Homo sapiens: one gene and its partners. The protein of the gene in region 2 binds, or shares a complex with, the protein of the main gene of each other region. Each region holds a gene or a part of one and is shown on either strand. Other genes may lie near its edges.

Region 1 (11,083 bases), on a different chromosome or scaffold from region 2:
CTGTGAATCTGTCTGGTCCTGGAATTTTTTTGGTTGGTAGGCTATTAATTATTGCCTCAATTTCAGAGCCTGATATTGGTCTATTCAGAGATTCAACTTCTTCCTGGTTTAGTCTTGGGAGGGTGTATGTGTCCAGGAATTTATCCATTTCTCCTAGATTTTCTAGTTTATTTGCGTAGAGGTGTTTATAGTATTCTCTGATGGTAGTTTGTATTTCTGTGGGATTGGTGGTGATATCCCCTTTATCATTTTTTATTGCATCTACTTGATTCTTCTCTCCTCTTTATTAGTCTTGCTAGCGGTCTATCAATTTTGTTGATCTTTTCAAAAAAACCAACTCCTGGATTCATTGATTTTTTGAAGAGTTTTTTGTGTCTCTATCTCCTTCAGTTCTGCTCTGATCTTAGTTATTTCTTGCCTTCCGCTAGCTTTTGAATGTGTTTGCTCTTGCTTCTCTAGTTCTTTTAATTGTGATGTTAGGGTGTCAATTTTAGATCTTTCCTGCTTTCTCTTGTGGGCATTTAGTGCTATAAATTTCCCTCTACACTGCTTTAAATGTGTCCCAGAGATTCTGGTACATTGTGTCTTTGTTCTCATTGGTTTCAAAGAACATCTTTATTTCTGCCTTCATTTCATTATGTACCCAGTAGTCATTCAGGAGGAGGTTGTTCAGTTTCCACGTAATTGTGAGGTTTTGAGTGAGTTTCTTAATCCTGAGTTCTAATTTGATTGCACTGTGGTCTGAGAGACAATTTGTTGTGATTTCTGTTATTCTACATTTGCTGAGGAGTGCTTTACTTCCAATTATGTGGTCAATTTTAGAATAAGTGTGATATGGTGCTGAGAAGAATGTATATTCTGTTGATTCGGGGTGGAGAGTTCTGTAGATGTCTACTAGGTCCACTTGGTGCAGAACTGAGTTCAAGTCCTGGATATCTTTGTTAGTCTTCTGTCTCGTTGATCTAATATTGACATTGGGATGTTAAAGTCTCTCATTATTATTGTGTGGGAGTCTAAGTCTCTTTGTAGGTCTCTAAGGACTTGCTTTATGAATCTGGGTGCTCCTATATTGGGTGCATATACATTTAGGATAGTTAGCTCTTCTTGTTGAATTGATCCCTGTACCACTGCGTAATGGCCTTCTTTGTCTCTTTTGATCTTTGTTGGTTTAAAGTCTGTTTTATCAGAGACTAGGATTGCAACCCCTGCTTTTTTTTGCTTTCCATCTGCTTGGTAGATCTTCCACCATCCCTTTATTTTGAGCCCATGTGTGTCTCTGCATGTGAGATGGGTCTCCTGAATATAGCACACTGATGGGTCTTGACTCTTTATCCAATTTGCCAGTCTGTGTCTTTTAATTGGGGGCATTTAGCCCATTTACATTTAAGGTTAATATTGTTATGTGTGGATTTGATCCTGTCATTATGATGTTAGCTGGTTATTTTGCCTGTTAATTGATACAGTTTCTTCATAGCATTCATGGTCTTTAAAATTTGGCATGTTTTTGCAGTGGCTGGTACCGATTGTTCCTTTCTACGTTTAGCACTTCCTTCAGGAGTTCTTGTAAGGCAGGCCTGGTGGTGAAAAAATCTCTCAGCATTTGTCTGTCTATAAAGGATTTTATTTCTCCTTCACTTATGAAGCTTAGTTTGGCTGGATATGAGATTCTGGGTTGAAAATTATTTTCTTTAAGAATGTTGAATAATGGCCCCCACTCTCTTCTGGCTTGTAGGGTTTCTGCCGAGAGATCCGCTGTTAGTCTGATGGGCTTCCCTTTTTGGGTAACCTGATGTTTCTCTCTGGCTGTCCTTAACACTTTTTCTTTCATTTCAACGTTGGTGAATCTGACAGTTATGTATCTTGGGGTTGCTCTTCTCAGGAGTATCTTTGTGGTGTTCTCTGTATTTCCTGAATTTCAATGTTGGCCTACCTTGCTAGGTTGGGGAAGTTCTCCTGGATAATACCCTGAAGAGTGTTTTCCAACTTGGTTCCATTGTCCCCGTCACTTTCAGGTACACCAATCAAACACAGATTTGGTCTTTTCACATAGTCCCATATTTCCTGGAGGCTTTGTTCATTTCTTTTTACTCTTTTTTCGCTAAACTTGTCTTCTCGCTTTATTTCATTAATTTGATCTTTAATCACTGATATCCTTTCTTCCACTTGATCAAATCGGCCTTTGAAGCTTGTGCATGCCTCACGAAGTTCTCATGCCATGGTTTTCAGCTCCATCAGGTCATTTAAGGTCTCCTCTACACTGTTTATTCTAGTTAGCCATAACCTTTTTTCAAGGTTTTTAGCTTCCTTGCGATGGGTTAGAACATGCTTCTTTAGCTCAGAGAAGTTTGTTATTACCAACCTTCTGAAGCCTGCTTCTGTCAACTCATCAAAGTCATTCTCCGTCCAGCTTTATGCCGTTGCTGACGAGGAGCTGCAATCCTTTGGAGGAGAAGAGGCACTCTGGTTTTTAGAATTCTCAGCTTTTCTGCTCTGGTTTCTCCCCATCTTTGTGGTTTTATCTACCTTTGGTCTTTGATGTTGGTGACCTACAGATGGGGTTTTGGTGTGGATGTCCTTTTTGTTGATGTTGATGCTATTCCTTTCTGTTTGTTAGTTTTCCTTCTAACAGTCAGGTCCTTCAGCTGCAGGTCTGTTGGAGTTTGCTGGAGGTCCACTCCAGACCCCGTTTGCCTGGGTATCAGCAGCAGAGGCTGCAGAACAGCAAATATTTCAGAACAGCAATTATTGCTGCCTGATCCTTCCTCTGGAAGCTTCGTCCCAGGGGGGCACCCACCTGTATGAGGTGTCTGTCGCCCCCTACTGGGAGGTGTCTCCCAGTTAGGCTACACGGGTGTCAGGGACCCCTTGAGGAGGCTGACTGTCCATTCTCAGAGCTCAAACACCATGCTGGGAGAACCACTGCTGTCAGAGATGTTTAAGTCTGCAGAAGTTTCTGCTGCCTTTTGTTCTGCTATGCCCTGCCCACAGAGGTGGAGTCTATAGAGGCAGTAGGCCTTGCTGAGCTGAGGTAGGCTCCGCCCAGTTTGAGCTTCCTGGCCGCTTTGTTTACCTACTCAAGCCTCAGCAATGGCGGACACCCCTCCCCCAACCCGGCTGCAGCCTCACAGGTCCATCTCAGACTACTTCGCTAGCAGTGAGCAAGGCTCCACGGATGTGGGGCCCGCCAAGCCAGGCACGGGAGAGAATCTCCTGGTCTGCCAGTTGCTAAGACCATGGGGAAAGTCCAGTATTTGGACGAGAGCGTCCCATTTTTCCAGGTACAGTCTGTCACGGCTTCCCTTGACTAGGAAAGGGAAATCTTCTGATCCCTTGTGCTTCCTGGGTGAAGTGACGCCCTTCCCTGCTTCGGCTCACCCTCTGTGGGCTGCACCCACGGTCCAACCAGTCCCAATGAGATGAACCAGGTACCTCAGTTGGAAATGCAGAAATCACCCATCTTCTGCATCAATCACGCTGGGAGCTGCAGACTGGAGCTGTTCCTATTCGGCCATCTTGAACGAAGATCTATTTAATTTCTTTTAAAGTCAAAAGAACATAGGCCAGGTGTGGTGGGTTAAGTTTGTAATCCAGCACTTTGGGAGGCTGAGGCAGCAGATCAGTTGAGGCCAGGAGTTCAAGACTAGCCTGGCTAACATGGCAAAACCCTGTCTCTATTAAAAATACAAATATTAGCCAGGCATGGTGGCACATACCTGTTATCCCAGCTACTTGGGAGGCTGAGGCACAAGAATCACTTGAACCCGGGAGTCGGAGGTTGCAGTGAGCCGATATCATGCCACTGCACTCCAGCCTGGGTGACAGAGCAAGACTCTGTCTCAAGAAAAAAAAAAAGTCAAAAGAGCATGAAATATGTTGCAAAAGGACATATAGGTCTTAAATAAAATATTTATGTTGCAAAGAAGTTAAGATACTCAAAAAACTGGGGATAGAAGGAACACACCCCAACATAATAAAAGCCATATATGACAGACCCACAGCTAGTATCATACTGAATGGGGAAAAACTAGAAAGCCTTTCCTCAAAGATCTGAAACATGACAAGCATGCCCACTGTCACTACTGTTATTCAACAAAGTACTGGAAGTCCTATCTAGAGCAATCAGACAACAGAAAGATATAAAGGGCACCCAAATTGGAAAGGAAGAAGTCAAATTATCCCTGTTTGCAGATGATGCAATTTTATATTTGGAAAAACCTAAAGACTCCACAAGAAAAGTATTATTAATAGAAGTGATAAACAAATTCAGTAAAGTTACATGATACAAAATCAACATACAAAAATCAGTAGCATTTCCATATGCCAACAGTGAACAATGTGAAAAAGAAATTTTAAAAGTAACTCCATTTACAACAGCCACACATAAAATTGAATAACTAGGTAATAACCAAAGAAGTGAAAGATCTCTGTAATGAAAACTATAAAACACTGATCAAAGAAATTGAAGAGGACACCAAAAAAATGGAAAAATATTCCATGTTCATGGATTGAAAGAATCAATATTGTTAAAATGTCAATACTGCTATCAAAGCAATCTACAGATTCAAGGCAATCCCTATCAAAATGGCAATGACATGCTTCACAGAAATAGAAAAAACCATCCTAAGATTTATATGGAACCACAAAAGACCCAGAATAGCCAAAGCTATCTTGAGCAAAAAGAACAAAACTGGAGGAATCACATTACCTGACTTCAATTATACTACAGAGCTATAGTAACCAAAACAGCATGGGACTGGAATAAAAACAGACACACAGACCAATGGACAGAACAGAGAATCCAGAAACAAATCCACACACCTACAGTTAACTCATTTTCCACAAAGATGCCAAGAACACACACTGGGGAAAAGACAGTCTCTTCAATAGATGGTGCTGGGAAAACTGGATATGCAAATGCAGAAGAAAAAAACCAGACCCATATCACTTGCCATACACAAAAATCAAATCAGCCTGGGCAAGGTGGCTCACGCCTGTAATCCCAGCACTTTGGGAGGCCAAGGCGAGCAGATCACTTGAGGTCAGGAGTTCAAGACCAGTCTGGCCAACATGGTGAAACCCCATCTCTACTAAAAATACAAAAATTAGCCAGGCATGGTGGCACATGCCTGTAGTCCCAGCTACTTGGGTGGCTGAGGCACAAGAACTGCTTGAACCTGGGAGGCTGAGGTTGCAGTGAGCTGGTATCAAGCCACTGCACTCCAGCCTGGGCAACAGAGCAAGACCCTGTCTAAAAAAAAAAATCAAATCAAAATGGATTAAAGACTTAAATCTAAGACCTTAAACTGTGAAACTACTAGAAGAAAATATTGGGGAAAATCTCCAGGACATTGGTCTGGGCAAGAATTTCTTGAGCAGTACCCCACAAGCACAGGCAACCAAAGCAAAAATAAACAAATGGGATCACATCAAGTAAAAAGTTTCTGCACAGCAAAGGATACAATCAACAAAGTGAAGAGACAACCCAAAGAATGGGAGAAAACATTTGCAAACTACCTATCTGACAAGAGATTTATAACCAGAATATATAAAGAGCTCAAGCAACTCTAGGAAAAAAATCAAATAATCCCATTAAAAAATGAGCAAAAGATCTGAATAGACATTTCTCAATAGAAGACATACAAATGGCAAATAGTCATTCGAAAAGGTGCTCAACATTGCTGATCATCGAAGAAATGCATATCAAAACTACAATGAGCTATCATTTCACCCCAGTTAAAATGGCTTATATCCAAAAGACAGACAGTAACAAATACTGGTGGGGATGTGCAGAGAAGGGAACCTTCTCAAACTGTTGATGGGAACGTAAATTAGTACAACCACTACAGAGAACAATTTGGACGTTCCTCAAAACACTAAAAATTGAGCTACCATATGATCCAGCAATCCCACTGCTGGGTATATAGCCAAAAGAAAGGAAATCAGTATATTGAAGAGATATCTGCATTCCTATGTTTGTTGCAGCACTGTTTACAATAGCTAAGATTTGGAAGCAACCTAAGTGTTCGTTAACAGATGAATGAATAAAGAAAATGTGGTACATACATACAATGAAGTACTATTTGGCCATAAAAAAGAATGAGATCTATGGCCAGGCACGATGGCTCACATCTGTAATCCCAGCACTTTGGGAGGCCAAGAGAGGTGGATTGCTTGAGGTTAGGAGTTCAAGACCATCCTGGCCAAAATGGCAAAACCCTGTCTCTATTAAAAATACAAAAATTAGCCAGGTGTGGTGGCACATGCCTATAATCCCAGCTACTTGGGAGGTTGAGGCACAAGAATCACTTGAACCCAGGAGGTGGAGGTTGCAGTGAGCCGAGATTGCACCACTGCCAGCCTGGGCAATAGAGCAAGGCTCTGTCTCAAAAAAAAAAAAAGCGGGGCAGCAGGGGTGGAGGGGTTTGAATTTAAAAGGACAGTAAAGAGGAAACAGAAAAAGGGAGTTGGAAAGTACTATGCTCAGAAATCAAATTCTAATTAGATTACAGCTTATGCCACTAGGAAAGAAAATACTTAGTTATTTATTTATTCCTATTTATTTATTTATTTATTTAGAGATAGGGTCTCACTCTGTTGCCCAGGCTGGAGTGCAGTGGCACGATCACAGCTCAATGCAGCCTTGACTTCCTGGGCTCAAGAGATCCTCCCACCTCAGCCTCCTGAGTACCTGGGACTATAGGCACATGCCACCAAGCCTGACTACTTTTTGTATTTTTAGTAGAGACAGGTTTCACCATGTTGCCCAGGCTGGTCTTGAGCTCCTGGGCTCAGCAATCCGCCCACCTCGGCCTCCCAAAGCACTGGGATTATAGGCGTGAGTCACTGCACCTCCCAGAAACGACTTTTAAAACATACATGCATTTTTAAAACAAAGATAACTTTGGCTGCCATACATAAGGACCAGAGACAGAAAAGGACTGGAAGAAGGAAGGTTAACAGGAAGCTATTACTGCAGTACACTAAAGAAGGAATGGTGGCAGACTACGGTAATATTAACAATAGGAGGAATGGAGAGAAATAGATGTACATTACCTTTTTGCTTCAGGCATTTTTATTAAGAAAAATTCTCTTCCGATGGCTCAAGTAAAACAAGCATTGATATCTTGTGCAAAATGGGCATTTAATAAATTTATCAATGAACTGGAGGAAATGAAAGCTCAATATGAACATGAAGATAAAAGACAGTTCCTAACTACTCTAAGTAAACCTTCAACAAGGTATATTGCTCCAAATAAAATTCCACACAGCTGTTGGCAATCATTTAGGAACTATGGTGAGCAGGAGAGGTTGCCAGAAGACTAAAGACAGAAAAATGTAGTACTCGTGTTCAAAAAAAGAGAAATGGGATCCTGCCAACTATTGATCACTGAAGTTAGATGTAATTTTAGACATGATTCTAGCATCATTACTAAGAGAAGTTTGTGAACACTTAGAAAAAGTAGTAATCAGTGCTCCCTTAGTAGCACATATACTAAACGGGAACAAATCAGAGATTAGCATGGCCCCTGTGCAATGATGACACACAAATTCTTAAAGCATTCCACATTTTTACTTGAATTAAAAAATCCTTTTCTCATACAAAAATCAGCCGGGTATGGTGGCAAGCGCCTGCAGACCCAGCAACTCGGGAGGCTGGAGAAGGAGAATTGCTTGAATCCAGGAGGCCACTGCACTCCAGCCTGGGTGACAGAGAGAGACTCTGTCTCTAAATAAATAAATAAATAAATAAATAATCCTTTTCCGAAAAAAAAGACAAAAAAGTAGTAATTAACATATGCTACTGGAATATAGTATAGTTTCACTAAGGACAAGTAATGATAGGGTAAAGAAAACGAAGCATATAAAATCTGGGTTTTAGTAAGGCAACTGTCAAAGTTCCTCACATATTCCTTATGAGAACTTGGAAACATATGAGGTAGATGATGATTAAAATTAGCTGAATTTCTAATTGGGTGACCAACCTGAACCAAAGAATTAATAATAAAATTTTTTATCACCTTTAAGAGAGGTCTTTAGCAGGTAAAGAACTCTGACCTCAGCCCTGCCTAGACAGCATTTTAGTGAAAAATTTGCATGAAAGCAATGCCAAAATTATCAAACTTGTATGTTTATCAAATGCATAGATTTGATATTTATTGGATGACCAAATCAGGATTTTTTTAATGTCAACAGACTAGAAGCAATCTTACAAAATAAAAATATAGATACATGTAAAGTCCTACCAAAAAATATTCTATTAAAGAATTGAGAGAGTATGACTTTAAGAACAGAGAGAGCATGAACAAAATAATTCAACAATTTTAGTTGACAAGGAAACCAATAGTAAAATAGGTATCATACATACATAGTACTGGGATGCCACAACCCATTCTAAATGACTTATATATATATATTAATTATCTTCAGAATTGTGTAAGATAGACACTATTATTAACCCCATATTAGAGATGAGGAGACTTAGGCCCAGAGTGTTTACATAACTTACTCAGGGTTACCCAGCTGATAAACTGCAGAGCTAGGATCTAAACACAGGAAGGTTAGCCCCAAAGTTAATCTTCTTAACTAGTAAATTATTATAAAGTAACAGTGTAATGTGGTTGCCAAAGAAGCAAGTCTACTCTTAAAGTACATGCTTTAAAATTAGAGAGGTAACTTAGTCTTCTATACTAGTTAATACCTAATTTGGGGTACCATGCTTGTCAGAAGAATGTGGATGAACTAAACAAATCCACAAGTGGGCTATGAGTTCTGTGAGGAGATGTGAATGAAAACAATGACACAAAAGTCACTAGCAGAGGTTAAAGACTGAGAATATTTTCTAACACTCAGTGGAATATAAGTATCTTCAAATAGTTGAAAACCCACAATACAGAAGAGACAGTGAGGACACAATTTCTAGTTCAGTGAAAGAAATAATTTTATAAAAATTAGAGTTGTCCAAACATGGCGAGGTGTGTGCCTATAACCCCAGCTACTTGGGAGGGTGAGGTGGGAGGATCACTTGAGCCCAGGAGTTCCAGACAAGCCTGAGCAACATAGAGAAACCCTGTCTCAAAAAAAAAAAAAAAAAGAATTGATCAAATATCTTTGCCTCAGAAACTATGACACTATAAATAGTCTCTCCAAAAAATATACAAATATGCATAATTTTGCATAATATTTCCAAGAGTTCACAAGCCTACTTTCATATCTATTCATGCCGCACACCTAGAGTCATGTATCCCAGATTAAAACGGAAAGGATTTAAGTATGAAGAGGTGAGTGTATTTGATTCTCTTTAAAATCCACTACAATTTAAAATTCTATGATCTAAAAGAACTCTCAATCTATGCCTTCTAGTTTCTTCTGAGATCCATTATAACACATATTGCAATAAGAGTTTAAAAGATGATGACAAGGAAGTACATCCCACTTCATCAGTTATATTGAGGGCACACGGCTCAGACAGTTAAGAATTTTAGCTGCCAGAGAAAAACTTCCATGTGCCACTTGGACTACACATTCACAAGAGTCAGGGTGGGAGGAATTACATGATCACAAAATGAGAATATGAAGTATTACACACTGCAAAAATTCAGCTTTCCTTTTTAAACACCTAGAAATGAAGAGAACTGAAAAGTAAGAGTTTAGTAAGTCTTGAACCTTTTATTAACAAATGTAAGGGCCACAGTGCTCAAACTGCAACTGCACAGCCAGAACAACGCTACAGACACCATGTCTACTCTTAGACTAGACTAGTTACAGGCACAAGATGTTCTAATAAATAACAAACACATCCAGAGCCAGTACACAAGTGTGACAGAATCTGGGGTCTAGGCATTTGATTTTTCTCCTGGTGCTGTCTGAGAATGGACACTGCCATTAAAGATTAATTACAGTAATCTGATAGTGATAAAGTTTAGCTAAATAACAGGCTAAACAATGAAATGGAAAAGGAAGCTGCAATATAGATCAATTAAACTATTTTTATATCTACTTTTAAAGAGAGACAGGGACATGATTATGCCATATAGAAAATAGATGAATATATATTCACGAGCTGAAAAAAAAAACAGGTAAATTATTTATTAGGTGAAGATAAATTCAAGCCATGAAGAGAAAACACATGGCCCAGAAAAAAAAAAAAGTAGGTTGTGCAAGTCAAATGAAAAGACACAAAACTCAGATCTCGGGGAGACAGGGGAAGGAGAAGGCTGAGCTAAAAGAGAGCCTTACTGAAAGAAAGCAAATAAGTGAGAGGGAGTCTGTGCCCTCTGAGATGGAATGAGGAAAAGATAAAAGTATTCATGGGCTCAAAGGCAGCTTCAGCAGTGAATATGGAAAAGGAATGAGCCCGTTCACTGTCTCAACACTAAAAGGGAAATAATATAGGGTCTTTTTCTAAACCAGCATCCATGGCAGTCAATAATAAAAGTGCCTAACTAATGCAAGGCATTTAATACGTGGAGGATTTTCTTACGATTGCATTCCATACATTAGTCCATTCACTCCCCGAAACACACCGAATAGGTGGATGCATCTAATTTACAGATGAAGAAACCGAGATCACACAATGGGAGATAGCACAGGCTGGTAAGAGAGACTGGGGCGCTCATCCACTTCGTTGTACTGTCTCTCAGCGAGATCCTAGGAAAACCCTTACACTTCTTTGTGAAGACAGACCTTGGCTTTCCAGATTTTCTCAAAGGAGTCTGGGCCCAAAAAGCGATCCTCTACTTCAGAGAAAAGTTCCTTTATGGGGCATATGAGGTTCTTCCAAGCACACAAAGCTTAGAAACTCTTTAAAAACAAACAAAACACCTGGTGGACACAGAGGCCTGTGAGTCATGAAAGGAGAAGGGAAAAATCGGAAAACCAGATTTAGAAGCCATCCTTCTTTGAAGAGAACGAGAAAGTAGAAAGCAGCCCTTCCCCTCTTCCACGAGGCGTGACTCAGGGACGTTACCTCCCCCGATTTGCTCTATGCACTAAGAGGGTGACCCTCCTCTGCTTTCGACTCTGGCCCAGACACTCACGGGTTACCCGGCCAGGCCTGGAGAACCCAGGTCTAAACAGATGGGAC
Region 2 (11,083 bases):
TTTTAAAAATCGTATTTCTAAAGAACTTGTCAGAAATCTGTATCTGCCTAAAATGCCCATCACTGTTCCAAGGTATTTCAAAGGTGGTAAGATATATGAAAGCACAGTAACTAGAACACTTCCCAGTCCTATTCATTCGTGAACTACTACCACAAATACTATTATTAGAATAATAGCAGCAACCAAGCACACAGTACTTGAAACTCAGACAAGCCCCTTTAATTACATCATCTCTTTCAGCTTCACAATAACAATTTGGGGTGTGTTTTATGATCTCCTTTGCATAGAAAAGGAAACTGAGCCTTTTCCTAATTAGTTTCCTAAAGAGGTACCCTGATTAGTTTCCTAAATATTATCATGAAAGTGCTTCAGTATATCAAAATATTAAAATTATTTTATTCTAATACATGTAACCATGACTGAAACTACTAAAATGTATATTTCAGTATTAAGAAAAGTGTTCCGACAGGGCGCAGTGGCTCACTCCTGTAATCCCAGCACTTTGGGAGGCCGAAGGTGGGTGGATCACGAGGTCAGGAGATCGAGACCATCCTGGCCAACATGGTGAAACCCCATTTCTACTAAAAATACAAAAATTAGCTGGGCGTGGTGGCGCAAGCCTGTAGTCCAAGCTACTCAGGAGGCTGGGGGAGAATCACCTGAACCCAGGAGGCGGAGGTTGCAGTGAGCCAAGAATGAGCCACTGCACTCCATCCTGGTGACAGAGCAAGACTGCGTCTCAAAAAAAAAAAAAAGGAAAAAGGAAAAGAGTTCCACTGACACCTGATGTTTTCTCTAGATGCTATAAAGTTAAGAATTCAAAACAAGCCAAGCAAGGGTTTATTTACAAGTTAAAGAAAAAGGTGAACACAAATTCAAACTTGAAAATTAGGCCAGGTGTGGTGGCTCACGCTTGTAATCCTAGCACTTTGGGAGGCCGAGGTGGGGGGGAGGGGGGTGGATCACCTGAGGTCAGGAGTTCAAGACCAGGCTGGCCAATGTGGTGAAACCCCATCTCTACTAAAAATACAAAAATTAGCTGGGTGTGGTGGCGGGCACCTGTAATACCAGCTACTAAGGAGGCTGAGGCATGAGGATCACTTGAACCCAGGGGGTGGAGGTTACAGTGAGCTGAGATCGCGCCACTTCACTCTAGCCTGGGCGACAAAGTAAGACTCCGTCTCAAAAAAAAAACAAAAAAAAAACCTTGAAAATCAAAAGATAAAGCTTTGTATCTGTTTCAGTAAATATCTTTTTTTAAATGTTAAAAATCAAAGTGATAAAAATCATAATTTGTGTTTTATTAAAATTAGGAAAATTATTAAAAATAAAATGAATATACATACCACAATTTTAAGAGGTCCATATTTTTTCTCCTGAGCAGCAAGCGCATTCTTAAAAGGAGTAGGAGTTCTTGGTGTGGTACCCAGTATAGATCTTCTAATAGTAGGTGTTCTAAACCTATCCAGTCATTTAGATATTTATGTTATAGTCACGATCTGATTTCATACAAGTTAATGAAAGCAAAGCAATTTAAGCACACGCTAAATTTTCTTACACATATATATATGCTTCATTTAAACATTCTAAGACTATTTTAAAGTATGCCCACCTATGGTAATTCTGATTTCAATCAATCATCTTAAAATAGAAAAAAAGAATTAATATAGAAAAAAGTACTAGAAATGTTTGAAAAAGTACTAGAAATGATTGAAATCAAAGTTTGACACTATATTTCAGTTGGTTTTCACTGTCCTAAGGAGAAAACATAAGGTTATGATTTAAAAAAAAAATTCTGGCCGGCCACAGTGGCTCACACCTATAATCCCAGCACTTTGGGAGGCTGAGATGGGCAGATCACCTGAGGTCAGAAGTCCAAGACCAGCCTGGCCAACATAGTGAAACCCCATCTCTACTACATACACAATATTAACCAGGCATGGTGGCACATGCCTGTAATCCCAGCTACTCGGGTGGCTGAGGCAGGAGAATCACTTGAACCCGGGAGGCAGAGGTTGCAGTGAGCCGAGATCTCACCATTGCATTCCAGCCTGGGCAACGAGAGCAAAATTCCATCTCAAACAAACAAAACAAAACAAAACAAAAAAAATTCTAAGTCCTGTAGGAATAGGAATTATGATACTTGCTATTTATATGCACAAAAAGCTAATCTACTTTAACACTGTGCTCCCCATTTTCTCTAACACAATTATTTAATACCTACTTACCCTACATTTTCCTTTTGATCTTTGGGAGTTGTTTCCTTATGAAGAGGAGTTGTAATGAGAGCTTTCTGCCCACAAATAGGGGTTGATGTAAATGAAGGATTTTCTATATTAAGTTGTTCATTACCAGGACATGTGTTGAAAAACTAGAAAGGGAAGAGAGTTTAAAGACGACTTCTAGAACATCAAAATCCCTACACAAATATTAAACTGATAAGATTTTCAAATTATTTCTTCATACCTCTTAAAAAAAGCTTATGAATAATATTACACTTATACTCCATGGAAATTATGCTCCATGAGGGTAGGAATTTTTGTCTGGTTTGTTCATTTTTGTCTCCCCAGCTCTTAGAACAGTGTTTAGCACATATAGGAATTCAAGAAACATTTAACAAATATTCAAAAGTTACAAAAAAAATACTAAAAATTTAAAAAACAGTATATTATCAAATAGAGATCTATAGAAACCATAAACAGCTGCTGTGTTAAATGTAACAGTTTTGTACAACAGTGTGTAACTGAAAAAACAAGTTTTTTAGCTCTTATTAATAAATGACCTTAAGTGGCTTTTTCTATGAGAGTATTTTAATTTAGAATATAATAATAATGCTTTGCTGATAAGAAATACAGCTGTCTGGCAAATTTGCCTATCTAGAACACAGAACAGAACCTCTAAGCAGTCAAAACTGGCATAACAGAGTCCATTTTCTAAATTATATAATTTACAATTGTGAAATACTAATTTATTTTTGCAGTCAAAAGATTAGAAACAGTGATATGAAGCCATAGAAATGGCTTCAAAGCTACTTATAACTAGAATGAAGTCTAGCTCTGTCACTTCTGGCTCTGAATACTTGAATTTATTTTACCCTAAGATTAGTAATCAAACCCTCTTTTACACGATAAAATCCAAGCAGTTTGCCATGGGAAATAAGCATCTTTCAGCCACTTCTACCTTAGAATTCACACTTCAACAAAAATTGCTAGCATGCAAAACTCCAGAATAGAAAACTGCTAGTATGCCCAAGCCTACTTCACTTTCTCCAGTGCTTTTTAACTCTGAGAGCAGGGCTGGGAGTGAACAGACTATTCACATTGTAGTCTACAGAAATGGCATCCCCTGAAGCATGGGTGCACAATTTTTAGAGATCTGTGTTCTGCCAGATCCTGCTTATCTCCCCAGCCTCAAAATATACCTCCAATAATATCCCAGCATTCTCCATGTTTGTTTGACCATTAAACTCCCTTCTTCCTCCTTAAACTTTGTAGCCTCTGCCAAACACTTTCAGAAAACATCAGCTTCATCTCTTACTAACTGTTGCCTTTGACAAGTGGCTCAACTTCAGAATTTTATTCCACCTAACTCCTTTTGAAAGAGCATTAACTGAGATGCTATAAGAAGATTGTTTGGAGGCTGGGAGCAGTGGCTCACGCCTGTAATCCCAGCACTTTGGGAGGCCGAGGCGGGCAGATCACCTAAGGTTGGGAGTTCAAGACCAGCCTGACCAACATGGAGAAACTCTGTCTTTACTAAAAATACAAAATTAGCCGGGCGTGGTGGCACATGCCTGTAATCCCAGCTACTCGGGAGGCTGAGCCAGGAGAATCACTTGAACCCGGGAGGCGGAGGTTGCGGTGAGCCGAGATGGTGCCATTGCACCCCAGCCTGGGCAACAAGAGCAAAACTCCATCTCAAAGAAAAAAAAAAAAGCGTTTGGCAAACAGCCTGGAGCATAGCAAGTGTTCAATAGGAAACTGTCCTAACATAAACATCTACTGTCCAGGGATATTACAAGAGGAGAAAGTAAGTAGGTAGTTCTAGACATCCTTAGGAAACCTCTTGACACATTAAATTCTTACAGTAAGCAATTATCTAAGTTTCTTCCAAAGAACATTAAAAGGAAAAACCTCAGTGGGCAAACTAAACAAATTACTCTAAATAGGTAAGGCCACTTTAATCTTTATCAGGTATATCTATCGAACAGTAGTCAGTCAGGAAACCGGATCTTAGTCTCAGCCTTGCATTAGATAACTTTGGGCAAATCAATGTTACCTTTCCGGGCTTGTTTTCTGATGAGTTCTATAAAGATATGGGACTACAAGATAAAGAAAATGTCCCTCTAAAAACTGTAGTATAATATCATGTAGAACCGGGAGCAGTGGCTCACGCCTGTAATCCCAACACTTTGGGAGCCAAGGCAGGTGGATTACTTGAGCTCAGGAGTTCAAGACCAGCTTGGGCAACATGGTAAAACCCCATCTCTACAAAAAATACAAAAATTAGCTAGGTGTGGTGGCACGCATCTATAGTCCAGGCTACTTGGGGGGCTGAGGCGGGAAGATCACTTGAGCCTCGGTGGTTGAGGTTGCGGTGAGCCGTGTTTGTGCCACTGCACTCCAACCTCGGCAACAAAGTGAGTCCCTGTCTCCAAAATATAAATAAATAAATAAATAAATAAATATTTGCAGCTACTACATTTTGTGAGATACTTTCTATTCTCTCAGAGTTCAGTATTCTCAAGTATACATTTAAACACATTATTTTTATATGTTATCAAAGCTACCAACTGCTAGTAAGGATGTTAAAGATCTAATTTAATGTAACTCATTGACATTTAGAAACATAAACAAAATGAACACCACTACCTGTGAAGGAGAAAATGGTAGTGTTTTCAGTGGTGTATGTTTTAGCGCCATATTACCACCATCGTTCAATGAGCCATCCCTAAGTTCGCTGCCTGGGGAATGACCCACTCGCATTTTTCTCTTCTTTCTGAGGATGGCTGGTGGAGTGCTAAACTTGGCTATATTTGGGGATGTTAAAGGAACAGCTTCACTGTTGCCACCATTACAAGTGTTTTTTTTCCCTTCAAGTACAAGACTGACGTTAAATTGGCATTCCATGGCTCCTTCATTGTGCTGAATTCTCATTAATTTAACTGGGGTGGATTTGATAGGAGAAGCAGCAGCATCAGAAATATCAAAACTGGTAACGTCACTCCATGCTACAGGATCCTGCAATAAATTAAACTGTTAATAAAGTTAATGCTGTAACCTAGTTAAATCTGCTCTTGAACACAGGATGATGATTTCCACAGAGTTAATTAACAACTCATTTTATCAGTAAAAATGCTTTCCTTGGACATTTTTTTTAAGCAAGACCATTTAAGAGGAACAGATTATGGCTTTCCTATGATTCCAAAATACATAATAGTTCATCTAATTCAGTAGTTGAAGCTTACTGTCAAAGTACTTTAAGAACAAATGATAAGTTATTATCAAAAATTAAGTTATTATCAAAAAGTATATTTCGTCATAAAACTTCACATTCTACTGCACATCAGGAAGACACCATCAAATTCTGCATAATCATTTGGTAATGTGTATGGAACGTGTTAAAAATGGTGATATACTTTGATCCAGAAATTCAATTTAACCTAAAGACATAATCATGATTTTGCACAAAGCTTTATATGTTATCTGTAGTACTGAAAAAGTAGACACTAAGCTTATCCACCATGATCAAGCAGGCTTCATCCCTGGGATGCAAGGCTGGTTCAATATACGCAAATCAATAAATGTAATCCAGCATATAAACAAAACCAAAGACAAAAACCACATGATTATCTCAATAGATGCGGAAAAGGCCTTTGACAAAATTCAACAACCCTTCATGCTAAAAACTCTCAATAAATTAGGTATTGATGGGACGTATCTCAAAATAATAAGAGCTATCTATGACAAACCCACAGCCAATATCATACTGAATGGGCGAAAACTGGAAGCATTCCCTTTGAAAACTGGCACAAGACAGGGATGCCCTCTCTCACCACTCCTATTCAACATAGTGTTGGAAGTTCTGGCCAGGGCAATCAGGCAGGAGAAGGAAATAAAGGGTATTCAATTAGGAAAAGAGGAAGTCAAATTGTCCCTGTTTGCAGATGACATGATTGTATATCTAGAAAACCCCATTGTCTCAGCCCAAAATCTCCTTAAGCTGATAAGCAACTTCAGCAAAGTCTCAGGATACAAAATCAATGTACAAAAATCACAAGCATTCTTATACACCAATAACAGACAAACAGAGAGCCAAATCATGAGTGAACTCCCATTCACAATTGCTTCAAAGAGAATAAAATACTTAGGAATCCAGCTTACAAGGGACGTGAAGGACCTCTTCAAGGAGAACTACAAACTACTGCTCAATGAAATAAAAGAGGATACAAACAAATGGAAGAACATTCCATGCTCATGGGTAGGAAGAATCAATATCGTGAAAATGGCCATACTGCCCAAGGTAATTTATAGATTCAGTGCCATCCCCATCAAGCTACCAATGACTTTCTTCACAGAATTGGAAAAAACTACTTTAAAGTTCATATGGAACCAAAAAAGAGCCCACATCACCAAGTCAATCCTAAGCCAAAAGAACAAAGCTGGAGGCATCATGCTACCTGATTTCAAACTATACTACAAGGCTACAGTAACCAAAACAGCATGGTACTGGTACCAAAACAGAGATATAGATCAATGGAACAGAACAGAGCCCTCAGAAATAATGCCGCGTTATCTACAACTATCTGATCTTTGACAAACATGAGAAAAACAAGCAATGGGGAAAGGATTCCCTATTTAATAAATGGTGCTGGGAAAACTGGCTAGCCATATGCAGAAAGCTGAAACTGGATCCCTTCCTTACACCTTATACAAAAATTAATTCAAGATGGATTAAAGACTTAAACGTTAGACCTAAAACCATAAAAACCCGAGAAGAAAACCTAGGCATTACCATTCAGGACATAGGCATGGACAAGGACTTCATGTCTAAAACACCAAAAGCAATGGCAACAAAAGACAAAATTGACAAATGGGATCTAATTAAACTAAAGAGCTTCTGCACAGCAAAAGAAACTACCATCAGAGTGAACAGGCAACCTACAAAATGGGAGAAAATTTTCGCAACCTACTCATCTGACAAAGGGCTAATATCCAGAATCTACAATGAACTCAAACAAATTTACAAGAAAAAAACAAACAACCCTATCAAAAAGTGGGCAAAGGATATCAACAGACACTTCTCAAAAGAAGACATTTATGCAGCCAAAAGACACTTGAAAAAATGCTCATCATCACTGGCCATCAGAGAAATGCAAATCAAAACCACAATGAGATACCATCTCACACCAGTTAGAATGGCAATCATTAAAAAGTCAGGAAACAACAGGTGCTGGAGAGGATGTGGAGAAATAGGAACACTTTTACACTGTTGGTGGGACTGTAAACTAGTTCAACTATTGCGGAAGTCAGTGTGGCGATTCCTCAGGGATCTAGAATAGAAATACCATTTGACCCAGCCATCCCATTACTGGGTATATACCCAAAGGACTATAAATCATGCTGCTATAAAGACACATGCACACATATGTTTATTGAGGCACTATTCACAATAGCAAAGACTTGGAACCAACCCAAATGTCCAACAATGATAGACTGGATTAAGAAAATGTGGCACATATATACCATGGAATACTATGCAGCCATAAAAAAGGATGAGTTCATGTCCTTTGTAGGGACATGGATGAAATTGGAAATCATCATTCTCAGTAAACTATCGCAAGGACAGAAAACCAAACACTGCATGTTCTCACTCATAAATGGGAATTGAACAATGAGAACATATGGACACAGGAAGGGGAACATCACACTCTGGGGACTGTTGTGGGATGGGGGGAGTGGGGAGGGATAGCATTAGGAGATATACCTAATGCTAAATGACGAGTTAATGGGTGCAGCACACCAGCATGGCACACGTATACATATGTAACTAACCTGCATATTGTGCACATGTACCCTAAAACTTAAAGTATAATAATAATAAAAAAATTAAAAAAAAATTTTTTTTAAAAAAATGAAAAAGTAGACACTACCTAAATGTCCAATAATAATAGTTGGGTAAATATATTTTCTTATATTCATTTGATGGAATACTACAAAGCCCCTAAAATTCAAATTTAGGCCAGGCATGGTGGCTCATGCCTGTAATCCCAGCACTTTGGGAGGCCGAGGTGGGAGGATCACTTGAGGTCAGGAGTTCAAGACCAGCCTGGCCAACATGATGAAACCCCATCTCCACTAAAAATATAAAAATTAGCTGGGTGTGGTGGCAGGCACCTGTAATCCCAGCTACTCAGAAGGCTGAGGCAGGAGAATCGCTTGAACCCAGGAGGCACAGGTTGCAGTGAACTGAGATTGCACCACTACACTCCAGCCTGGGCGACAGAGTGAGATGCCATCTTAAAAAAAAAAAAATCAAGTTTAAAAAAGGAAACAGAAACATGCTCATGACAGGGTGGAAAACAAAAAAAAATCCACAAATATAATACAGAAGTGTATTTTTGGGTTTAAAAATATAATGTTTTCTGAGTATAGAACACAGACTGAAAGGAATACATCAAATTATTAACTCTGGGTTTATGAAGGACTTTAATTTTCTTTTTTATAGTTTTCTCTAGTTTCCAGCTTTCTCTAATGCACTTGTATAACTTATATAATAAAAAATGAATTAAGTTTTTAATTTTTAAAAATTCCTCACAAGGCACATACTTGAGAAAAATTTAAACTTTTTTCCCCTAGAAGCCACTGCAAAATATCAGAACAAAATTAAGCATGGCATACAAAACATAAAACTGGTCAATGTCCAAAACTGAGTTTCTGAGCATGAAATCATATAACTAAAATTGAACTTTTGATAATCTTACAATTTTTTACTTACAGATTCAATAAGTTCTAGAGTCTCTGCAAATTCTGGGATGGTCTGCAAAGAGGATAACACAGCGTTTGCCTCCACGGCCAGGAACTTTGTGGGTGAATTCTGCTGAGCAGACACAGGCTGATTTTCATCCATACTGTAAAACTCACTAGTGTGCTCGTCAAGGCTATTTAGAGTATTAGACATGTTATCATCCATGAGGAAACTACCAGACCAGCTAGAAAAACTTCCAGGCTGCTAAAGGTACAAAAGAAATTTGAATATTATTTGTCATTCTCAATGTAGGCATAAATTCAGATTTCAACACATTTCAATTAGGCTAAAAACATAGTAGCAAATATTTTGTCTTTCCTCAAAATTGGTATACTTTTTTCATTAAACTTCATGCTTTGACTATGTTTCTTTTTTCTAATTAAAATTTTTAATCTATACAATCATGATGAGATAAAACAAGCATTTACATACAACATAAAGTCCAAACTCTTAGAATCTGGCTACTCCCTTCCTTCCAAACTTCATTTCTCAACACTTCTACTCAAGAGCTATATATTTAAACCTTATCATGTGTATCTATTTATTCCTGGTAGTTATCAGAAATACCCAACTATAGCACTTGCAATTCCCCAGTGAATTATATACTCTTTTGACCTGGAGTGCCTTTGCACATATTGCTGCTCCCTCTATCTATTAATAAAATGCTCTGTAACCTACTGACCAGGGAAGCTCTTCTTTTTTTTTTTTTTTTCTGAGATTGGAGTTTTCACTCAGTTGCCCAGGCTGGGGTACAGCGGTGCTCTCTCGGCTCACTGCAACTTCCACCTCCTGGGTTCAAGCAATTCTCCTGCCTCAGCCTCCCGGGTAGCTGGGATTACAGGTACCCATCACCACACCCGGTTAATTTTTTGTATTTTTAGTAGAGACAGGGTTTCACCATGTTGGCCAGGCTGGTCTCAAACTCCTGACCTCAGGTGATCCGCCCACCTCAGCCTCCCAAAGGGAAGCTATTCTTAAGACACAGTTCAAATACTGGAAAGTACTTCATCTGATTATACACTTTTATCTGCTTCATTTATAATAATGTCCTAATTCATTTATCTTGCTAATATATAATCATTGTCCTTCAAGGCTGAGTTCACTTAGGACTTCTAGGAACCCTTCCCTGATGACAACAATCTAAATCAAGCACCTCTCCTGTATGTTACCATAAACTTTGTGACTTACAAATTGTCAAAATTCAAAGACAGAATTCTAAAAATAGCAAGAGAGAACAGGTACGGTGGCTCACGCACATAGTCCCAGCACTTTGGGAAGTCAAGGCAGGCAGATTGCTTGAGCCCAGGAGTTTGAGAACAGTTTGGCCAACATAACGAAACCCCATCTCTACAAAAAATACAAAAATTAGCTGGGCATGGTACCATGCGCCTGTAGTCCCAGAACTCGAGAGGCTGAGGTGAGGGCATCACTTGAACCCAGGAAGTCAAGGCTGCAGCAAACTGTGATCACACCACCACACTCCAGCCTGGCTGACAGAGTGAGACCCTTATCAAAAGAAAATTAAAAATAAAAACTGCAAAGTAAAAGTATTACATCCCATATATGGAAATCTTTATTAGATAACAGCAGATTTATTTGAAAAAATCTTACAGGCCAGAAGAGAATGAAATGATATATTTGAGAAGCACTGAAAAAAGAAAAATGCCTGCCAAGAATACCCAGCAAAGCTATCCTTCAGAAATGAGGGAGAAATAAAGTCTTTCCCAGACTTTTTCTTTTTAAATGGTGGGAATTCATCACCACTAGATCAGCCTTACAAGAAGTGCTCAAAAAAGTCCTATACCTGAAAGCAAAAAGATAACAGACACTATTATGAAAATATGTAAAAGTATAAAATTCACTAGTAGAGCAGGTACACAAAGGAGAAAGATAAAATAATCAAACCACTGTACTACAGAAAACCACCAAACTGCAATAATAAACATTAAGAGAGGAAGAAAGGAACAAAGAATACACAAAAACAGAAAATAATTAACAAAATGAAAAGAGTAAGTCTTCACATATCAGTAATAACCCTGAATGTAAACAGATTAAG
Region 3 (11,083 bases), on a different chromosome or scaffold from region 2:
TTAACATGCTAGCATAACTTTTTTTATACAAGTTTTTAATATGTAATTTTGATTATAATTATAATTTTATAATTTTGTTTTCATATTGTTAACATCTTCCCAATTTTAAAAATTAATTATAAATATTTTACTGTAGCAGTATCTTTAATCTCCATGTGGAGATTAGATTCAATACTCTAAAGACCAGAAAGAATCCCAGGTTATAAGTCTTATTAAGGTGCCTGACCACTTCCACTTTATTCAGTCAAAAACCATTTGCTGTTTATATTCCAGTCAAGAGTTCTTTAGAACTAATATCTTAAGGCCAGGCATGGTAGCTCATGCCTGTAATCCCAGCACTTTGGGAGACTGAGATGGGCAGATCACCTGAGGTCAGGCGTTCAAGACCAGGCTGGCCAACATAGTGAGACCTCATCTCTACCAAAAATACATAAATTTAGCTGGGCGTCGTGGTGTATGCCTGTAATCCCAGCTACTTAGGAGGCTGAGGCAGGAGAATTGCTTAAACCCAGGAGGCGGAGATTGCAGTGAGCTGAGATCATGACACTGCACACCAGCCTGGGCAACAGAGTGAGACTCTATCTCAAAAAGAAAACAAAACAAAAAACCAAAACTAATATCTTAAATATTTTGTACAAAAAAGCCTTATTTTTATAAGCACTGGATCTCATTTTCAGTTTAGGCATTTTATTTTTGAGACGGAGTTTGCTCTTGTTGCCCAAGCTGGAGTGCAATTGCGTGATCTTGGCTCACTGCAACCTCTGCCTCCCAGGCTCAAGCGATTCTCCTGCGTCAGCCTCCCAAGTAGCTGGGATTACAGGCGCACACCACCATGCCCAGCTAATTTTTTGTATTTTTAGTAGAGATGGGGTTTCACCATGTTGGCCAGGCTAGTCTCAAACTCCTGACCTCAGGTGATCTGCCCACCTTGGCCTCCCAAAGTGCTGGGATTATAGGCGTGAGCCACTGTGCCTGGCCTACTTAGGCATTTTAAATAATATGCCATTTGCAAGGCTCATTCCATTTAATAATTCCTCAGATTAACCTCTAACAAACTTTCTAATACCAGTCCAGTCCAGTCCAAATCACAAACTATGTTTTATCAGGTCTTGACAAACACTGGAGATATTATAGACATGCCTTATTCCTCACAGCCACCTGGTATAGGCTATTTTAAGGATAAGAAAACTGAGGCTCAAAGAGATTCACAAACTACTAAGTAGCACAGATAGTATAAACTCAAGTCTACCTGACTTTAGAGGTCAGGCTTTTCTACTCCAGAGCTCAGCAGATGAAAGAGATAACAATACGGAGCTGCACTATTACAGTGTGATGGGTGGTCCAATAGGATGGGAAAAGTGCTCCAAGAAATGGAAAAGGCAAGAGAAGGTAGGAAAATGCAAAAACATAATTACACGTTCAGCGAGACATATGAACATCTGCTTTTCTTTGGGGTTCCTCAAATTACATAATTACCTCATCTTAGTAGACAGAAATTAAGCACAGTGGACTAAATCATTACTGTGCATTTTCGAACTGCACAATAATCTGACAGTGGTTTCTGTTACCTTTAAATTCCTTTACAAGTAACTAAAGATGGAAAGAAAACACAAAAATCAGGTTTGCAACAACCAAAAATATAAACTCAACTTTGCCCCCTGAAAAGAAACTTTACCAAAAGTATTTGGGAAGTACTATAAAAAGATTAAAATACTGACTTACTTTCCGCCTCCACTATTTAAAGCTGGTGTTGGCCTAGTAAGCAAGTCTGAAATTTGAGAGGATAACTTCGTCTTGGCTGCTGTTTGTTGCTGTACCCTTACTTCAGCTGCATCTGCCAAATGCATCAATGTCTTCCTTTCCGGGCTTTCTTCAAAATTCTTACAGCCAATACATTTGCATATTGAGGAACACATTATTTTTGCCTAAAAGATTTACATAAGAAAAGTTTCCAAATCAAAACCAAAATACATTACTATAAGTAGATGCCACAATCAAATCAACAGCTAATAGCATTACCTGGTCAACTGATAATAAGATTAGATGGAAGTATCTCTGGCTGACAAACAGTAACTACACATGTGGCTAGCTAGGTTAGGTATTCTTAAGTCTGACAGTGGCTGTACAACGTTTGTGGCTGTGTCCTTCCATGTCAGTTTTCCCCCACTATGAATATAGATTTTCTTCAGATATGAGTTACACATGTTTTTCATAAACATGAATGATATCCTAAAATATCAAAAATAAAGGTCATCCAGAATCCAGCCACCTCAATCAAATCATCATTAACATATAGATGACCTCCCATTTATGCATATGTATACAATTTCACATTAAAGGGATTTCACAGATGCCATTTTTATTATTCTATTATGCTATTTTTAATCTGAAGAGGGAGTTCGGGAGGGACTTCAGATTCCCCAAACCCTTCAATAACCCATATGAAACTAGTGTGTATTTTACATTTCATATAAATATATATTTTCATGTAAAAATATGTCAAATGTAAGTATATATAAAATCCTAGACCTTATGTATATACAAATATAGAACTTTCATTTTTTAGTTTTTCAAAATCATATTATCTGCTTTTCTGCATCTTGCTTTTCTTACAACTCATGGAATCCCTCCAAAGTCATCTGGCATAGCTTGAATTCATTCTATTTAACAGCTAGGTGTAAATCCCTGGTATGATGTGTCAATTTTATTGGGCATTCATTTCCCTATTGATGGGTGTTTATTTTTGTTTCCAGTTCTTGGGTACCACAAATGATGCATAAAAAGACTTTTTTGTTATACATTATGCCTTTTTATTTCTCTGAGTTAGATTTCTAGAATTGGGCTCACTGGTTAACAGGTCTGTGTATTTTAATTTTTTTTTTTTTTTTTTTTGAGATGGAGTCTCGCTCTGTCTCCCAGGCTGGAGTGCAGTGGCGCGATCTCAGCTCACTGCAAGCTCCGCCTCCCAGGTTCACGCCATTCTCTTGCCTCAGCCTCCCGAGTAGCTGGGACTACAGGCACCCGCCACCACGCCCGGCTAATTTTTTTTGTATTTTTAGTAGAGACGGGGTTTCACCGTGTTAGCCAGGATGGTCCCGACCTCCTGACCTCGTGATTCACCCGCCTCGGCCTCCCAAAGTGCTGGGATTACAGATGTGAGCCACCGCGCCTGGCCTGTGTATTTGAATTTTAAGAGATGTAGCCAGATTGCTTTTTCAAAAGGCTGTAATACCTCACATCTCATCAGCAATGTGTAAAGGAAGGCTTTCCCACATTCCCTCCAACAATGAATATTATAATTCCTTTTAACATTTTATGCCAGGCGCGGTGGCTCACGCCTGAAATCCCAGCACTTTGGGAGGCCGAGGTGGGAGGATCACCTGAGGTCCGGAGTTCAAGACCAGCCTGACCAACATGGAGAAACCCCATCTCTCTTTAAAAAAAAAAAAAAAAAATTAGCCAGGCATGGTGGCACATGCCTGTAATCTCAGCTACTCGAGAGGCTGAGGCAGGAGAATCGCTTGAACCCGGGAGGCGGAGGTTGCAGTGAGCCGCGATCACGCGATTGCACTCCAGCCTAGGCAATAAGAATGAAACACCATCTCAAAAAAATATATATATATATAATCTGATGGTGGGGATGATAAAGTGAGATTTCACTGTTCTTTAATGTATATTTCCCTGATTTCTAACGAATTTGAGTATGTTTTTGTTAGCTGTGTTTTCTTCAATGAACCCATGTCTATATAAATAAATAAAACTGTCCTTTCTCTCTATAGCACCTAGCAAGATAAACGGGCTGCATTATAAACACATTTACTCTGCTCCTTTCTTATAAGACACCAATAAATTCCACTTACCAAAGGAAAAAATGGATGTAAGTTTGTGTTAACTGGGTTACTGTGAGCCTGAATGGGAATCTAACTAAAGCAATACTTAATAAGCATCTAGTGATGACGAGAGAAAATTCCTGACCTCAGAGTGGGGAAAACATACCAATAATGGTAATTTAGATTTTATATATATATATATATTTGTTTTTTAAAAATTATCTTTATATTTTAAGAACCATAGGAAAGACATTAATAGTGTCTAACCGGAGCTCAGATGGAGAAATTACAATGACATTTAGCTTGGCGAATTTAACTTCCCCTATACCAAAAAAAAAAAAGATGTGGAGGGGAGGAAAATGGTCACAAGAAAAGACACAGCCATGAAATAAGGTGGGTAGCCATTCATCCAATCAACAAGCCTATAGGCATTGAAAGGACACATGAATGTGTTGTCCAGATGCAAACCAACAGGATTAAAAAGCCAATTCAGCTGAAGAACAAGGTGTCAAAAGAACAGTTCAACACAAAATGTCAGATAAGCCCACAGCTAATTTACAGCCAACTAGCCACTGCTATTCATAGTTTAGTATATTCTAAGTTTCTCCATTTTTTGGTACATAACTTTTGGAATGATAAATTTGTTACTAGACAGTGTATCTGTCCCGACAAAATTTCATTAGAATAGGTAGGGTAGGGCTGTCTCTTCTAACACTTTTAAACCAGTCCAGTACCTTTTCTACTTCTATTAATTCACAGGTTGTTAACCAGTTCAATTAAATGGTTAGTTCCTATATGTCTGAATTTCATATGCCCAGCATGTATTGATTTTTCAATGCCATATACATGAAAGGGTCGCTTTACCCTTCTGATCCAACTTTACATAAATTTCCATGTTCTGAAAAGAAGTGTTAATTTTTACATATTCGTGACAATTTTTGTATGATATGGCTTCTAAACGCAAGCCGGCTATTTCATCAGGTATTCAAAAGAAGAAAGACTAAAAAAGATTCCAACACTGGATGAAAACTGGCTTGTTGGATTTTGAGATGTTAAGACAGTTTAAAAAATCAACTTGCGACGGTGGCTCATGCCTGTAATCCCAACATTTTGGGAGGCTGATGGGTGGGCGGATCACTTGAGTTTGAGAGCAACCGGGCCAACGTGGTGAAACCCTGTCTCTACTAAAAACAAAAAATACAAAAATTACCTGGGCATGGTGGCAGGTGCCTGTAATCCCACCTACTTGGGAAGCTGAGGCAGGAGAATCGCTTGAACCCAGGAGACGGATATTACAGTGAGCCAAGATCGCACCACTGCACTCCAGCCTGGGCGACAGGGCGAGACTCCGTCTCAAAAACAAAATAACAACAACAACAACAACAAAAAACTTGTCTCTTTATGCAATTTTCATTCATATCATCTGCAGAACTCACAAGATGTTACTCTCCTATTCCCTATTCTACTTTACTTCCTGAGAGGAGTATTTGACTTTGTAAATAAGTAGATTAGGAAAGAATTCATTACACAGAGAATGCAATACACAAAATCTTTCATATGACACATGCTGTATGGGAGAGGGCACTGAACTGGAGGACATGCTCCTGTGGCAGGGCAAACCTTCAGCAAGTGCAAAGCTAGGCTTTCTGCCAATAAATAAATAAACTAATTAATTAATTAATTCTCTGAGAATAAGAAAGAATGAAAATATATGAGAGTATGAGAAGAGCCAAGAAGAGGAATAACTCAACCACCCAAAAGACTGTCAGTAAAGAGTTTCAGGCATACCAAGAAACCAATTATGGTAATCTAGGGTTAATCTCAATCACTAGATTGTTACACATAAGCTTCTAAAATAAAACTATATAGTACTGTGTCTAAAGCAAGAAGGGGAAGATTTATATGGCATTTGTCAGAGCAGAGTTTCAACTACATCTTCCAGAGAAGACGCCTGACCCATAAGTAAAAATAACCAGCTCAGTGGAACAACAAAACAGTGAAAATGGAGACAATTGCCTACCGTGACCAGTAACCTCATCCAGCAGAATGCCAGATCCCCCTTTCCTATTTTTATGCTCACAAAGCAAACTTAACATACTTTGGTTTTCCGCAGAGCAGTGTGCTCTTTGAGTGGGCATAACCAGCATTTTGGTCAAGATAATCCTTTAATTTCCAGACTGTACCTTGGGATGCAGGCTATTTTGTATCCATATATATATATATATTTATATATTTATAATATATATTTATATATTTGAGACAGAGTCTTGCTCTGTTGCCCAAGCTGGAGTGCAGTGCCATGATCTCGGCTCACTGCAATCTCCACCTCCTGGGTTCAAGCGATTCTCGTGCCTCAGCCTCCCGAGTAGCTGGGATTACAGGCACCTGCCACCATGCCCGGCTAATTTTTGTATTTTAGTACAGACGGGGTTTCACCATGTTGACCAGGCAGGTCTCGAACTCCTGACCTCAAGTGATCTGCCCGCCTCTGCCTCCCAAAGTGCTGGGATTACAGGTGTGAGCCACCGCACCCGGCCATATATTTCTAAGAAGCCTGTGAAGAACAGTAAGTAGAACTGCACCTCAGGTGAGAATCACTGCTGGAGAGTTTCCAATCCACTTTGATATTATTTTTATTGAAAATCAATATATTGGTGTTCTGATCTGCATACTTTCTGAGCATAATGACCAAGAAGTTATGGTAAATCACCCAGTAAGACCCCAAGCTGTAATAATAAACCCAAGGTATTCCTCCGAAGCCCTGCTACAGAGGCTCGAAGGCCTTCCTAAAACAAGGGCCTTTGCACCAACTGTGCATATTTTCAAATTGCAATAGCAAGGTGATTTCCCAATTTTCAAGTAAATTTTTGTAGTAGGTCCTTTCTAAAACTGTTTTTAAAAGATATTATTTTCCGCACCCAGCATCTCACCTCATAGCATTCACAGTAGTTTTTAAGACATCCTGATCGTTTGCAATTACACCCTTTGCTATGACGTCGATCAGATTCTCCCTCCTTTCCTTTCCCTATCTTAGGCTTAAAGGCTTCTGGATTTCTGTCAAGGCATGCCTAGCAAAACAGATCAAATATCAGTTAGAGTTAAATCACAGTAGATGAAATTTAAACACTGCAAAAGGAATTGATAACGTTTCTTTGCAAGACAATTGAGTTTTATAAAACTGATGAAACTGGATATTTCTGTCAGTTAAATGAAATAAAAAATAATCACCTTTATTGCTTTTTGCCTTTCATTTTCATGTTCCAAATTGTTGTAACAATTAGTACAATTGCAGTTGTTGCAAAATTCACCATTTGCAAAGCAATCACAATACCTGAAAGGTAAAAGTCAGTATAAGGTAAAAAGTCATTATTAAGGAAAACTAATTATCTGATTATGCATACATTGTATATATATTGTACACATACTACATATGTGGTAAAGCATCTCAGAAATCTACTCAGCTACCCAGTTAAAGAGTTAACAACACATATTGTCAACCACATACTAAGGCTCAAAGTTTAAATCACCAAGTACTAGAAATGTGGCCTAAAAACTTAGTCCAACCAATAACAGCTGTCACACAAGAGCTGTCACACATATAAATTATATAAATTATATGTCACACATATAAATTTTATGTGCCCCCAAAGTAAGGCATTTCAAAATTCTGAAAAAGGAAAAACACTAGCTATATTCTAATAGTTGAACTGGCTCATCTGAGTTATAGTAATAGTACTTTGGATTCTATGCCCCAATAAGACCAATGCTTTTCATTTAACTATTTCATGTCAAGTCTTTTTAATGCTAATAAGCAAATTAACCATTCAGTGACTTTTAAAACTACCTAGAGTATCATCACTTAGGAGACCAAATACAAAAGTCATAAATAAGATCAAACATTATTATTAAGGGCAGAAGCTATGTCTGTCTCATGCTGCTATGTCCCTAACCCCTACTCCAGTGATTCATGTATGGTAAGGACTCTAAATATTTCTTTCTAGATGAATGAAATAATATTTTTACACTGCCATATATGTTCAAACATTCATTTGTATGTTTATTTAAATTACTTAGACTTATGAGCTTTGGTCTGCTAAAAATTTTTAGTTAACTCCATTTACTTTTAAGTGCATTTCTAATTACATTAAATAAGCAAACAGTTGCAAAAACACTTACAATTTCAAACACAGTGATTTTGTACAATTACAGGGCTTTCGGGGCCGACTGGCCGACTCTGATGGGATTATGCTGTACAGATAGAAAAAAAGATATACATTTAATCAATTAATAGTAACTAAAATTAATTTAGTTGCTACAACTAATTTAAAATTTAAAAAATTAGACCTAAAACTAATTTAAAATTAGAGAAGTCTCCAATCTATAAATCCCTCCAGAAATAAAGCTTTAACCAATGTTAAATGTGTCCATCTAAAATAAAAAGTTTGCTACGTTGTTCTATTTACACTAGGTTCAAAGGCAAGTTGTAACATGAAAGAGGTAGAGACAAGTATGGAATAATTTTTTTAAAAGAAGTTATCAATAGCTGCTAAAGAACACTCCACAAACACTGTCCCTTCTAAGAAAACAAAAGTTGAGATTGCCTCAAAACTCTTGGGATTCAATTATAAAAAGCAGTGAGGAAAAGGAGTGTGTGGAGGAGGAAATGGAAGTGGGATGTGGACTGATTCCGGGTAATTAAGCACGGCTTCTAAGCTGATATTGCAAAAGCCAGTAATTAATAGATAAACAAATAAACATCAACAAAAAATGAGGACCTCACATAATTTTAAAAATAGTTGGGCAGGTGCAGTGGCTTAAGCCTGGAATCCCAGCACTCTGGGAGACTGAGCCAGGAGGATCACTTGAGCCCAGGAGGTGGAGATTAGCCTGGGCAATATAGTGAGACCGCATCTCTACAAAAAAATTTAAAAATTAGGAGAGCATGGTGGCATGTGCATAGAGTTCCAGCTACTCAGGAGGCTGAGGCAGGAGGATTGCTTGAGCCTGGGAGGTTGCAGTGAGCTGAGATCACAGCACTGCACTCCAGCCTGGGCAACAGAGCAAGACCTTGTCTTGAAAAATAAAGATAAAAAATAGTTAGCATCATCATTTTGGAAACATACTCAGAATGAAAGAGAATAATAAAACTAGTGTAGTGAAATTGGTGAATCTGAATAGAGTATTTGGGAATTGACTATTTCTGTAATTTTTCTGTTTGAAATATTTCAACAAGTATTTTAGAGGCATGCTCACATGGCTTTAAGGGGAAAAAAATAAAAGAGGATGTAGTTTGGAATATATATATTTACTGTTGCATTTAAGCTGATCTAACAACTTATGTACCTATTTTCAAAATACTCACCCATTGAATGGAAGCCGTGCCTGGGTCTGGATACCAGATGTTCCAGTAAAGGTAGAGTTGCTTGCTATTGATACATATGAAGACTGCTGTAGCTACATGTAAAGAAAATTAATTTTAGATCATATTTCCAAAAATGGACAATACTGTCAGGTATGATGATCAGTAAGAAATACAAATTCATCCATTAAGATAAGAAAAACACAATGGAGAATATCACACAAACACATACTTCACAGAGCTCTTTTAAAGACTCAAACCAATACTATAGGTGAAAATAATGTGAACATTTTACAGTACTACATAGTACAAATATAAAGAAAGTATTTCACAGAAGAGTTAAGTATGTCGGAATGATAGGAAATGCTAGATGAATGCTCTCAAAGTACTGTAATAACTTGTTTGGGCTAGAAAAATGCAATGTGCCTACTTACAAATAAAATAGGTACTATACTGATCATTTATCACACTACAAATTACAGAGAATGAGAAGTTACATGCACAATAGTTGAGTTTCTATTTTACACCAACTTCTAAACATTAGAAATGCTTATGACAAAAATACTGAACATTATTCTTTTTATCAATAGCCACATAACATGTTCCAAAGTGTATTTCATTAAAAAGTACACGTGTGGGTTTGTTTCCCCGTCTTTCATTCTAAAGATGACCAGTAAGAGTAGATAGATCGCTGAAGATATGTCACCTGGAAATGCATCTCACAGTTTATTTTCCAATAAATAAACTTGGGCTTATTTTCCAAGTCAGTGGCATCAAATTTATGTGTGAGGAAGAGCTTTATAACAGCCACAGTCTTTTCTAAATTCATTTGGACTCTGCTGATTTTAACTTCAGTCTATTTTCTATCATATCGCCACAGGCTTGCGCTCCTGCCAAGCTGCTCTCAGCTCCAAATTGTCTGACTTGTATATCTGACCTGTGTTATATATTTCTAAATGCTAAAAGTACATAGAAATAAACTTAAAGGTTTGGGTTAACATTTTAAGATTTTGGAAAGTGCCACTTCAATACTGAGTTAGATGTGTTTGAGTAGCTTCTGTGATAGCACTAGACATCTTGGACCCCATTATCACTTTTGCAATACAATGACTTCATTTTTTCCACATACCTGAGTAACATACTGAGCTGGAAGCACTGCATAACCCACATTCCCTGTTCCCGGAGCTGGTGCCAGGACAGTGCCTGGTGGCAGGTTAGTGAGGTTGGGCTGGATCTGTGGCAGTGGTGTGGCAGGCATGATAAGCCGTTGCTGTGGCTGGCTAGTAGTTACTATTTGTGAAGTTGGATTGATTGGTTTTGGAACAACCTAAAAAGAAGGGACATATATCAATGACCACAAAATAAATTTTACAGCTGTTCAATTCAGTATAAATCTCTTGCACCTAAATCTTAACTTTCTATTTAAAAAGTAAATCGTCTATTTGGGAAAGACTGAGAAAGAAGTTATGTGATACTTACTTGTTTGACAGCCTGAGCTGAGACAATTGGAACTGACATCCGCACTGGGGTTGTATTAACAACCACTGGCTTTGCTTTTTAAAAAACAAAAGAAGGATGAACAAGTTATTTACAGAAAATAGTATTTAAAACACTTAAGAATACTTAGCTCTCCCAAGTTATTCTCATAAAAGAGCTTAAAGAATTCCATTTGATTCCTAATTTGAGCAATCTTTAATCAGGATAGTTACCTTTCAAAATTGCTTACCCCATCTACCAGAGAACTTATATCTAAGGTGGCTACAGTCTATCCACTTTGTGAGGGAATATTTGTAGGTTCAAGACATTCAAATGAAAATACTTCAATCTGTATTCAGATGATTTATACATTCAGTACTAAATCCAGTCAAATGAAATGTATAAATAAAAGAACTGT

The links.
Region 1: MYBL1 (region 2) and TFDP2 share a complex: the UniProt entries of both Homo sapiens proteins name them as parts of the DREAM complex.
Region 3: MYBL1 (region 2) and LIN54 share a complex: the UniProt entries of both Homo sapiens proteins name them as parts of the DREAM complex.

The regions. Positions count from the first base shown.
Region 1 is NC_000003.12:142,137,985-142,149,067, forward strand, and holds part of TFDP2 (transcription factor Dp-2), read right to left. Parts: intron 1-11,083. UniProt on the Homo sapiens protein: Can stimulate E2F-dependent transcription.
Region 2 is NC_000008.11:66,571,136-66,582,218, forward strand, and holds part of MYBL1 (myb-related protein A), read right to left. Parts: intron 9,232-11,083; coding exon 8,998-9,231; intron 5,256-8,997; coding exon of another isoform or gene 5,241-5,255; coding exon 4,872-5,240; intron 2,372-4,871; coding exon 2,229-2,371; intron 1,462-2,228; coding exon 1,347-1,461; intron 1-1,346. UniProt on the Homo sapiens protein: Transcription factor that specifically recognizes the sequence 5'-YAAC[GT]G-3'.
Region 3 is NC_000004.12:82,929,221-82,940,303, forward strand, and holds part of LIN54 (protein lin-54 homolog), read right to left. Parts: intron 10,743-11,083; coding exon 10,669-10,742; intron 10,517-10,668; coding exon 10,319-10,516; intron 9,285-10,318; coding exon 9,193-9,284; intron 8,079-9,192; coding exon 8,007-8,078; intron 7,162-8,006; coding exon 7,059-7,161; intron 6,899-7,058; coding exon 6,761-6,898; intron 1,926-6,760; coding exon 1,723-1,925; intron 1-1,722. UniProt on the Homo sapiens protein: Component of the DREAM complex, a multiprotein complex that can both act as a transcription activator or repressor depending on the context. In G0 phase, the complex binds to more than 800 promoters and is required for repression of E2F target genes.